Regions from separate parts of the Homo sapiens genome. Here region 1 is linked to region 2. Evidence: fine-mapped expression QTL. A gene starts in region 2. The other region holds a variant in brackets. All regions are shown on one strand. Distances are from middle to middle. Region 1 overlaps KIF21B (kinesin family member 21B). Region 2 holds the start of KIF21B (kinesin family member 21B).

Evidence for each region. PIP is the estimated chance that this variant, and not a neighbour inherited with it, causes the effect.
Region 1: its variant is the best candidate, but not a certain one, in a credible set for the expression of KIF21B in whole blood (INTERVAL, PIP 0.78).

What each region holds. Positions count from the first base shown.
Region 1 is chr1:200,985,162-200,990,161 of GRCh38, reverse strand. KIF21B (kinesin family member 21B) reads left to right here. Exons shown (of 35, transcript NM_001252102.2): 20 at 1-24; 21 at 119-220; 22 at 1,231-1,396; 23 at 1,618-1,669; 24 at 1,809-1,866; 25 at 2,961-3,166; 26 at 3,244-3,318. Among named protein-coding and RNA genes, the nearest start is that of KIF21B, 36 kb to the left of the region's middle. The variant C/T (reference allele first, on the strand shown) is at 2,258.
Region 2 is chr1:201,020,672-201,026,082 of GRCh38, reverse strand. KIF21B (kinesin family member 21B) reads left to right here and starts at 2,369. Exons shown (of 35, transcript NM_001252102.2): 1 at 2,369-2,740. The coding sequence starts at 2,700. LOC101929305 (a long non-coding RNA gene) reads right to left here and starts at 2,134. Exons shown (of 4, transcript NR_188464.1): 1 at 1,998-2,134; 2 at 464-579. RefSeq lists silencers at 1,644-1,801, 2,153-2,512, 2,913-2,962, 4,843-4,992 and enhancers at 3,567-4,174, 4,483-4,612.

The sequences.
Region 1 (5,000 bases), 36 kb after region 2:
ATCGTGCAGCTGGAGGAGACCAAGGTATCCGCAGGGCTGGGCCTGCTGGGGCGGAGGCGGGAGAGATGGGTGGCAGGGGTAGCCCCAGGTGACGGGGCTCTCTGCCTCCCGGTCCTAGGAGGAGCTGGACTCCACAGACACATCCGTGGTCATCAGCTCCTGCTCCCTGGCTGAAGCCCGCCTCCTGCTAGACAACTTCCTCAAGGCATCCATTGACAAGGTAAGCTGGGAGCGTACATGGGCAGGGGGCTCTATGGGCACAGATGCCTCTGTGATATACCCTAGTGTGAAGCCCAGGGGCCTGGCGCCTCCTCACCTGCGTCACTCACAGGCTAGGACAAGCCGCCTAACCTCTGCACCTCCCATGCCACAGCTGTAAAGCTGAGAGGACGACCATACCAAGCTTGTAGCTTGTTGCATGGCTTTAACGAGATGCTGTGTGTAAGGGACGTGGCCTGGCACCTGGCACACAACAGGGCCTCTGTTAAAGTTGACTCTGGGTGTCTGGCCCAAGCCTATCCAAAGCAGTGCTAGGCTTGAGTCTGCTGGAGGTGGAGGGAGAAGTGTGTGTATGTGGGGGTAGGGGAACTACAGACAGACCACATTCCACCCAGGAGGGTTTACACCAGAACATCAGGTGTCCCTCGACATTTCTTGGGCTCCTCTTCTCTCTCCTTGACAGAGAGCTAAGCAGAGGATGTGCCTCCTTCCCTCCTGGGGCCTGTGGTCTCTGGGGACAGACCCTACATGGTGTGCATCTGTGTAACTCTGGAAGGAGGCAGGAGACTCTGCCGCCTGACCCCTCCTCTGGGCCCCACTGAGCTCCTCTCAGCTCCGCTTTGTGTCTGGGGACTTTATGAGTTTGCTAGGGCTGCCATAACCAAGTACCAGTCTGGGAGCCTCAAACAAGAGAGGGCAGGAAGTCCAAGGTCAAGGTGTTGGCAGGGCTGGTTTCTTCTGGGGCCTCTCTCCTTGGCTGTAGATGAATATGAGTTTTGGGGGGACATAACCTAGCCCATAATAGGGTATGTCCTAAGGTGACCTTCACTTAATGTGTGTATGTGGGAGCTAAGGGGGCTGGCGGTGCTCTCAGGTCTGTGCCAGGTACAAGGGTGATGTTGGGAGCTGGAAAGGAGCACTCCAAGGTGTCTTGAGGGGTGCAGGTTGTGTGATATGGGTGACTCCCAACCCCCAGGAGGGGTAACTCCAGGCTTTGTTCCCTGCCCCCAGGGGCTGCAAGTGGCACAAAAGGAAGCCCAGATCCGGCTGTTGGAGGGCCGACTGAGGCAGACGGATATGGCAGGCTCCTCCCAGAACCATCTGCTCCTGGACGCCCTGCGTGAGAAGGCTGAAGCTCACCCCGAGCTGCAGGCCCTCATCTACAATGTGCAGCAGGGTACGGGTAGGGGCGGTTGGAAGCTGCCAGCTCCTTGGCATTCCAGTGCTCTTGGGCTCAGACCCCCACAAGGCCCTCACTTCCCCAGAACCACCCCTAACCCCCACCAGGAGCCCTGGTCTGATTCCAGTGGGTGAGATATAGGAGGGAGACCATCATCCCTCCCCCGACACTTGGACAGGGCTTCTCAACCCCTTTCCCTCCCTCCCGCCCTCCCACAGAGAATGGCTACGCCAGCACAGATGAGGAGATCTCAGAGTTCTCTGAGGGCAGGTGAGTTTGCAAGCTGGGAGTGAGAGGCTGGCTCACAGCATGTACCTGGGGCTGGTGGGAGGAGTTGCCATAGGTCCCAGGGCTGAGCCTGAATTTGGGGGCTCCTCAGGATCCTGAACTCTCTCTGCTTCTTCCTCAGCTTCTCCCAGTCATTCACCATGAAAGGCTCCACCAGCCATGACGATTTCAAGTTCAAGGTGAGCCCCGCCGGAAGTCAGGCAGTGGGTGCAGCAGGGCCAGCCTCCACACAGCCTGTTCACCGCTTACTGTGGCTCTGCTCCACCCTCAGCCACAACACAATGTTGTCCCCAGCTGGGAGGGAGGTGCCAAGAAAATTTAGTCTGGAATTGGGGGTTGTCCAGATATGTAACCTGTTGCAGCCCATTCCTTCTGAGGTGGGTGGAAGGTGGGAGAAGTGGCTGGAGCCACCGCTAGCCTCTGTTGCCACCCTGCTAGCAACAGCACCATAACCAGGGGCCCTGCTTTCAAAAATATCCCCTTTCCCCCACCCATGATTCTGCCTCACACTCTAAGTCAAAACCTACCTCTAAATGTCTGGTTATCTTACGTGCACACAGTCAATTCAAC[C/T]ATATGGGAGTCAAAAATAAGGAAGTTTACCTAATAATGAGGGATCAGTTTCATTAGACTGAAGCAAGATGCAGGGTTTATTAAGGAGACAAGGAGGGAAAAAGCTTCAGACTGGGAATAGCAAATTATGCATAGTTTTGAGGTAAACTGATTAGCTGGTGACCAGCAAAGAAGTCAGGCTGGGCATTCTGTGTTTACATAGTCCAACTAAGGGCCGTGAAACCATTTCAGTTGCTCTGGATTCTCCAGAAACCATAAGAGTTTAGCTGTGGAGCACAGGTGATGTCTGTCTGGGTCCTTCCATCAGGTCCTCTACCTTAGGCCAAGACGGCATCATTTCTCTTGTTAGAATTTCCGGGCGGGCTGGGTGTGGTGGCTCATGCCTGTAATCCCAGCACTTTGGGAGTCTGAGGCAAGAGGATTTTGTGAGCCCAGGAGTTCAAGACCAGCCTGGACAACATGGCGAGACCCTATCTCTACAGAAAAAAAATTTTTAATTATCCGGCTATGGTGGCACGTGCCTGTAGTCTCAGCTGCTCGAGGAGGCTGAGGTGAGGGGATCGCATGAGCCTAGGAAGTTGAGGCTGCAGTGAGCCATGTTTGCACCACTGTCTCAAAAAAAAAAAAATAGAATTTCCCCTGGCTCCCCTTTATGTGCCATGCAATTTGGGCAAGTTGATCCACCCTGTTCTTCTTTTCCCAGAGCGAGCCCAAACTGTCTGCCCAAATGAAAGCTGTGTCGGCTGAGTGCCTGGGCCCCCCACTGGATATCTCCACCAAGAACATCACCAAGTCCCTGGCCTCCCTCGTTGAGATCAAAGAGGACGGAGTGGGCTTCTCTGTCCGAGACCCCTATTACCGGGACAGGGTCTCGCGCACCGTCAGTCTGCCTACCCGGGGCAGCACTTTGTAAGGATGGGAGCAGGAATGTGGGTTGGAGTGGAGGTGGAGTTGGGTCTGGGCCTCACTGGACTCTTCTGTTGTAGCCCTAGGCAATCTCGAGCCACAGAGACGTCCCCGCTGACGAGAAGGAAGTCCTACGACCGAGGGCAGCCCATTAGGTGAGATCATGTTCTAGAATCTGCTCCAGAGTCACCACCAGTCTAGTTCTTGGTTACATGAGTGGCTATGATGTTCTGCTCTGTTGATCATCTTGTACACAGTGTAACCTGGGCCAGCTTGACTGAGCCATTCAGGTTCACCCAGTGGTCCCTTCCCCACCCTGTCAGGTGTGGACTGAAGAAATGGGCCAGGCGTGATGGCTCACACCTGTAATCCCAGCACTTTGGGAGGCTGAGATGGCCAGATCACTTGAGCCCAGGAGTTTGAGACCAGCCTGGCCAATATGGTGAAACATCATCTCTACTAAAAATATAAAAATTAGCCAGGCATAGTGGCACATGCCTGTATTCCCAGCTACTCGGGAGGCTGAGGCATTAGAATGGTTCGAACCTGGGAGGCAGAGATTGCAGTGAGCTGAGATCGTGCCACTACGCTGCAGCCTGGGTAACAGAGAGAGACTCTGTCTCAAAAAAAAAAAAGAAAAAAAAAAGGAAATGTAATTTCTGTAACGCACCTTAAACTGCATAGCCGAGCCAGATGCTGGAAACTGTTTGCTGATGTGCACCCAACACAAGTGGCTTTGTAGTGGCTTGGATTAGTCATTGCACTGATGTGCTTCAGCCCCTTTTCATGACCATAGGTTCTGGGGAGCTTTCAGGTCTTTTTAAGGCCTTATGGTGTGAGAGAAGATTAGAAATTTAAAGGAAAGGCCGGGCGCCAGTAATCCTAGCACTTTGGGAGGCTGAGGCAGGTGGATTGTCTGAGCTCAGGAGTTCAAGACCAGCCTGGGCAATACAGTGAAACCCAGTCTCTACTGAAATACAAAAAAATTGGCTGGGCGTGGTGGTGTGCACCTGTAATCCCAGTTACTTGGGAGGCTGAGGCAGGAGAATTGCATGAACCTGGGAGGTGGAGATTGCAGTGGGCCGAGATCACGCCATTGCAGTCCAGCCTGGGTGACAGTGTGAGACTCACTGTCTCAGAAAGAAAAGAAAAGGAAAAAAAAAAAAAGGGAAGGGAAGGGAAAGGAAGGGAGGGGAGGGGAGGGGAGGGGAGGGGGAAGGGGAGGGGAGTGGGGGAGGGAAAAGGAAGGAAGGAAGGAAAAGAAAGAAGAAAGAAATTCAAAGGAAAAAAGAGATCAATGCAGAATGGCAGGGAAGTCCCCAGCTGGTCACCCACATGTGGGCCAGGCCCACAGAGCTTCTGTAGATCGAAGGATGACTTTCAGGGTTTTCTGGTCCATGCACTTAATTAAGAGGTTTGGTGGCACACAGCTAAATAGTGGGAAAGCAGGGGCTCAAGATGGCCTCTTGCCACCTGCCTTGCTGGGAGGCAGGAGGATTTTTTTCTTTTTAGAGATAGGGTCTTACTTCATCACCCAGGCTGGAGTATAGTGGCACAATCAGGGTTCACTGCAATCTCCACCTCCCAGGCTCAAGCGATCCTCCCACCTTAGACTCTCAAGTAGCTGGGACTACAGGCATGCACCACCATGCCCGCCTAATTTTTTTACTTTTTGTAGAGTTGAGGCCTCACCACGTTGCCCAGGCTGGTCTCAAACTCCTAAGTTCAAGCAATCCTCCCACCTCGGCCTTTCAATTTACTGAGATTACAGATGTGAGCCACTGCACCTGGCCACAAATACATTTTAATAAATAGGTGAATTCCCAAATATGGAATC
Region 2 (5,411 bases):
GAAAAGGGCAAGGCTTGTCCTAAACTTCCTCTGACCCATCTAACCTAAATCTCCCCACGCTGTGGTTTAAGCCTTTTTCCCACCTTGGTTCTCCATCTAGCCTCTGAGCAGCAGAACCCAGGGGGGATGTCTGGATGCTGGCTGCCCTGCTGCTCCCTGGTGGCCCAGGAGGGAGCTACTTCTGAGTAGCCGAAGTCCTGAGGCTCTGACATTTAGGAGACCTGAGTTTCCCGCCCGTGTGTATCCCTGCTTCCCCTGACTCAACACCCAGTGACCTGGAGGGATGCAGAGAGGGTGGGCAGCAGCTCTGGAGGCATTTCCCAGCAGTAGAACTGTGAGTCAGAAGGGTCATCTACTGTCGGAAGTCAGAGGGGACCTCCTGCAGGCAGGAAACCAGAGTTGGGCCCCAGAGAAGTCCAGAGATGAGTTGGCGGGAAAGTAGCTCTTCAGAATGCAACATTACCATCCGGGAAGGCTGAACCTGGAGTCCGCTGTGCCTAGAGGAAAAGCCTGGGCCGGCCTAGCTCCCTTCTGCCTGGACATCATCATCCCTTCCACCTTGGTGGTCATCTGGGAAGCCTGGAATAAGATATACATGTCCAAATCTGGAGTCTGTTGCTTATATGCTGGAATTCATACATGTGAGGCTCAGTTTCCCCATCTGCAAAATTTAAAAAGAATAAAAAAGCCTAGCTTACAAGGTTATAGGGAAAAAATGAGAATATGTGCATAAAATACCTTGTGTAGGTGGTCCATATGTGTTAGTCTCCTCCCCACGAATTATTTTGGTTGGAAGATGGGGAGGAATGTTGCAGGATATGACTGCAACATTCTGCTAACCTCCTGGTCCAGGAGAGGTGATCCCCTGGCCCCAGGGAGAGCTTCCTCTAGATTCAAATGCTAATAAAAGGTCCAGGATACCACCAAGACCTCTTCTCCAGCCCCCATCATGGGGGCACTGCTGGCGGTGCTCCTCCTGTTTGCCATGGGGATGAAAAGGATGTGTTGATTGGCCCTTGAAATTTGCCCTTGAAATTATCTTTGGTTTTGATTTGACCTTAATAGGTCAAGCCAAACAGGGATCTGAGCTACTGCATGAAGCAGTTATTGGCGGGGAGGGGGGTGTGAGTGGAGGAGGGAAGGGGAGGAAGATGGTACCAACAGATGCATCCTCAGACCCCAGTCCACACCCTTGCCAAAATCTCTGACATGGTTTCATCATCTGAGGGTAATGTAAGAGGCCTGGAGTCAGACTCCCCTTCCTCCCCTCCCCCAGAGATCCCCATCCACATCTGGGGCTGCAGCTGGGTCCTCCTCTTGGGCCCTTTCCAGGGGAGGGAGCTGGGTGAAGTGAGGGCAGCTGGTGAGGGGCCCTGTGAATGGCCCCAATGTTGGGAGGCAGGGGGCAGGGAAGAGGCGTCTGGGCTCAGAGGGAGGGAGATGGACTGGGAAGGGAATTGTGACTTTGCAGCACTGGTCTCCTCCTCCATCCAGGCCCAGCGTTAAAGTCTCCATGGTCCTCCTTGTCCTTTATACCCATTCCTGCAGGCAGCTGCCCTCCTTCCCTTCCCCACCCACTTCACCGCCCAGCCTCTCTACCCAGGTGCTCGGAACTGAGGGCCCCCTTTGTTCCCTCCTTTCCCCCAGGGCAGCTCAGGCCTCCCACACTGACCCTCTGGCCCCACAGCCACAACAAGCAGAGTGTGAGCCAGGCCCAGTGGGGTCATCTGTGGGTCATAAAGGTCAATGGGACAGTCGTCTAGCAGTAGGGAGGGGCTAGTCTTGGGCTAGGAGCCTGGCCAGGAATCAACTAAAACATGAGCTTTAAGATGCTGCAGGGTGGAGGTGGGGGAAATTTTAGTTAGGGGCTAGCAAGAACTCCCTTCGAGAAGGGTTGGCGAATTTACTGGAATAAATGCAGAAGGGAAGCTTTCCTGGCTCTTTTGAACTATAAACCGTCAATCGCTGTGGGATCCCCGGGAGACCAGGGTTCTTACCATGCTTACCCACGAACTCGCTCTGTAACCTTCGGTAGTTCCCCTCTTTGAATCTCAGTTTCTTCATTTATGAAATGAGGGTCCCATTGAAGCCGAGGTTCTGCTACTCCAGGAGCCGAGGTTCTAACGTGGTCTGCGTCCAGCGCCCCCACCCCTACTCCCACCCCTACCCCCACCCCCACCCTTCAATCCCGCCCCCTACCCCCAGCCACCCCGTGGCCGCGAGCCAAGAGGTCCCTTTAAAGGCGCGAGTCCCGCCCCCACTGCTCATTAGGGCTTTCGATTGGCGGCTCCTGGGCGGGGCGGGGCCCGGCCTGGGCTCGGGGCTGGCTCGGGGCGGGCTCGGGGCCGGATCGGCCCCCGCCCCCTTTGTTCGCGCTGCGGCGGGAGGTGGCTGCCGGGTGGGAGGTGTGTGCGCGTGTGCCGCGCCGTAGGGAGCGGCGGGTCGCGCCGCCGGCTGTCAGCTAGCTCCGCGCCGCCGCCCGATGGCGCGAGGAGGCGCGCGGGCCCAGCCCCGGGGGGCCGGCCGCGGGTGAGCCCCTCGGCCTGCCGCCCGCGAGCATGTCACCTCCAGCCGCCGCCGCCGCAGCCTCCGCCAGCCGCGCCCGCGCCCCCGCCTCCCGCAGCCGCAGCCGCTGCCTCGGGCATTGGCCCCCAGACCCCCGCCTCTGATCCACGCCCAGACCCTAGCTCCAGAGGGCCATGGCCGGCCAGGGGGACTGCTGCGTCAAGGTGGCCGTCAGGTAGGGACCCGGGGCGGGGAAGGGGGCGCGCGGAGAAGCCTCGGGCTTTGTCTCGCGTGGGCTTTGGGCGGGGGGCGCGAGCACCGCTTGGGCTGGAGCCTGCACTCCCGGAGGAGGGGCCGGCGTGGGACGGGATGGAGGGCGCCGCGCGCTGGCCAGTCTGCCGCAGGGGAGCGGCGACCCCGCCGACTACTGGAAGGTGGCTTTGTTTGGGTGGTAATTTTGGGCCCCTCTTGGGAGCCCTTAATGATCAGAAAATCGAATAAACAAGGAAATCCGGTATTTCACACCCAGCTCTGGCCCAGGCCGGAGCGTCTGTGCGTTTCCTCTTCGCCTCCCCACGAGGCTGCTGTCTCATACGGGGATACCAGAGAGGGAAATTTCCCCTCATCCATGCGAGTCAGCTAGTTATGTGCTCTTGGTCCAGCTAGCAAAGGCAGCACACCCACCCTGGGAGCCAGATCTGCAGACAAAGATCGGGTGCGGGGACCAACGGAAAAGCTGGGATGATGCCTTGGCCTTCTGTGGGAAGTCAATGGCTTTGGGGGAGAATCCTACCAGTCCTGTCCCAAGAGGAGATGGGCCTAGGAAGGGAGGAAGAGGTGTATCTGAGGTGCTTCTCTCTGAGAGGGCAGGAGGGTGTGATGCAGATGCCCCATCCTCAGGCACTCAGATAAAATTGAGCAGGGGAGGGTTGCCTAGACTTATCTGGGGTTCCATTCTCAACAGCTCCGGGACTTGAGCCGGCAGAAATGAGACAGGGAGAGGACATGGCTGGGTGGGTTCTATTGGGAGGGGTACACAAAGGTGCAGGAGCAGGAAATGCTGTGAAATTGAGCCATCTGTGTTCTTTGTGCTGGGTGGAGATGCTTCACACCTCACCACTTCTCCCAGTTTTTGCTTTGGGTTTTTCTCTTTGAGAGGGGTGTCTTGGCGGCAGAGTGCCAATCTGGAGCTGCTCACCAAGGTAGGGATGTGGCAAGAACATCTATCTCTGCCCCAGCCCTGTATGATGGAGGGGGCGGGGGATTGTCCAGGTCTAGGGTAGGTCTCTCAGGTCTCTAGATCCCTTGGGTCATATGTGACCCAGATTCCAGGGGTCCTAGGAGGTTGCTCCTAGACAGAGTCAGAGATGGCAATGAAAAAGCTTTCTTCTTCCTGCCCCAGGGCAGATGCCCCTTGCCACGGCCACCTGGCCAGGCCTCTGCAGCCCAAAGAGGAGCTGACACTGATCAGTGCTTGGGTGAAGGGAAGGAGATTGAGGCACCCCCACCCATGCACCCTAGGCAGCACTCAAGAATCACTTGAGCACAGCTTTCCTGGCCCTGAGCAGCCAGAGACAAAGAGGAGCCCTGCAGGTGCCTGGTGGGCTGACTGGGGCGGGGCCAGGCTGCTGCTGGGGCTGACATTGCAGCAGGATCTTGTGGAGGTCGAGGGAGGGGTGCATGGCTGGGGGGTGGGAGTGAGAAATGTAAATATGGCATCTGCAGCAGATTGGGAGAGTCCGAGAACACCATAAAAGGGAAATGAAGCTCTGGCCCCCACCCATTGTGAATGAGGGCTGGGAAGGAAGGGGCTTGGGGGTGCCCTTTCCACAGGGGGTTTCCTTTAGATTCCATCTTGCTGGAGAGAGCTAAACAAAGGCCCCCTACCTCTGTTCAGGTCTCCAGGCTGGACTGGGGCTGAAAAGATGTGGGACTCCCACCCGGGGAGCCTCATGGGATTGGCACAGTGAGGAGAAGCTGATGTTCTCTTCCCACTGCCACCTCTAGAAGCTTCCCGGGACCCTTTCTGCAGAGAAGGGATCATGCCTGCCCTCTGCACCCAGTTCAGGACCATGTGTGTCATCTCTGGTTCCCAGTCAGATTGCCCTAAGTGGGGTCTGGGTGCCCCCACGCCTTGCCTTTCAGTTGCTGATCTGGATTGGGGGTGGGGCATTTGAGCATCAGAAGTCAGGCTTTCAGGGTCTCCGGGAAGGTAAGGGCCCCGCCCACTCCTCCCCTCCCACCCCAGCATGAGCGCCCAGCCCCGGCACACGCCAGACCTCAATGGGCAGCCGGCCGTGTACAGCAGACAATGCCTGGACAGAACCCAGTTTCTAATCAGAGAGCTTAGGACTGAGCTGGGGCTGGGCTGGGCTGGGAAGGAGAGCAGATGGTACCAGTGATGGGCTGTAGGGGGAGTTTTCCTTGTTTTTAGATCCTCTTCTACCCATCCTCCCCCGCAGCACCCCCAGAAATCACTTCTCTCACCTGAAAGACTGGGTGGTGGGCTGCACTACAGTAGACCATTTATGGGAAGGGCAAGGCTTGTCCAGGGCCTAGTCCAGCCCCAGGGCTCACTACCTCCTGCCAGGTTCAGCTGTCTTTCTGACTTTCTGGAAGTCCTTTCTTGAATCCAACTGAAGTGCCTTCTGAATTTCCATGAGAATAACATAGCGAGCCTGGAGTCCAGCTCTTCAGACAGGGAAGGCCAGGAATGAGACAGGTGTGGTCTGATTGTGTGTGTGTGTGTGTGTGTGTGTGTGTGTGTGTAGAGGAGAGAGGTCCCAGGGCTATTAGACTAGGTGAGAAGTGCCAGGCCTAAGGCTCTTGGCCCTGCAATCTGTTTGGGATGAAGAGATCGAAGCTGGCTGGCTGTGAAACGCTTCAGTGAAGGCCTGGGCTCCTGG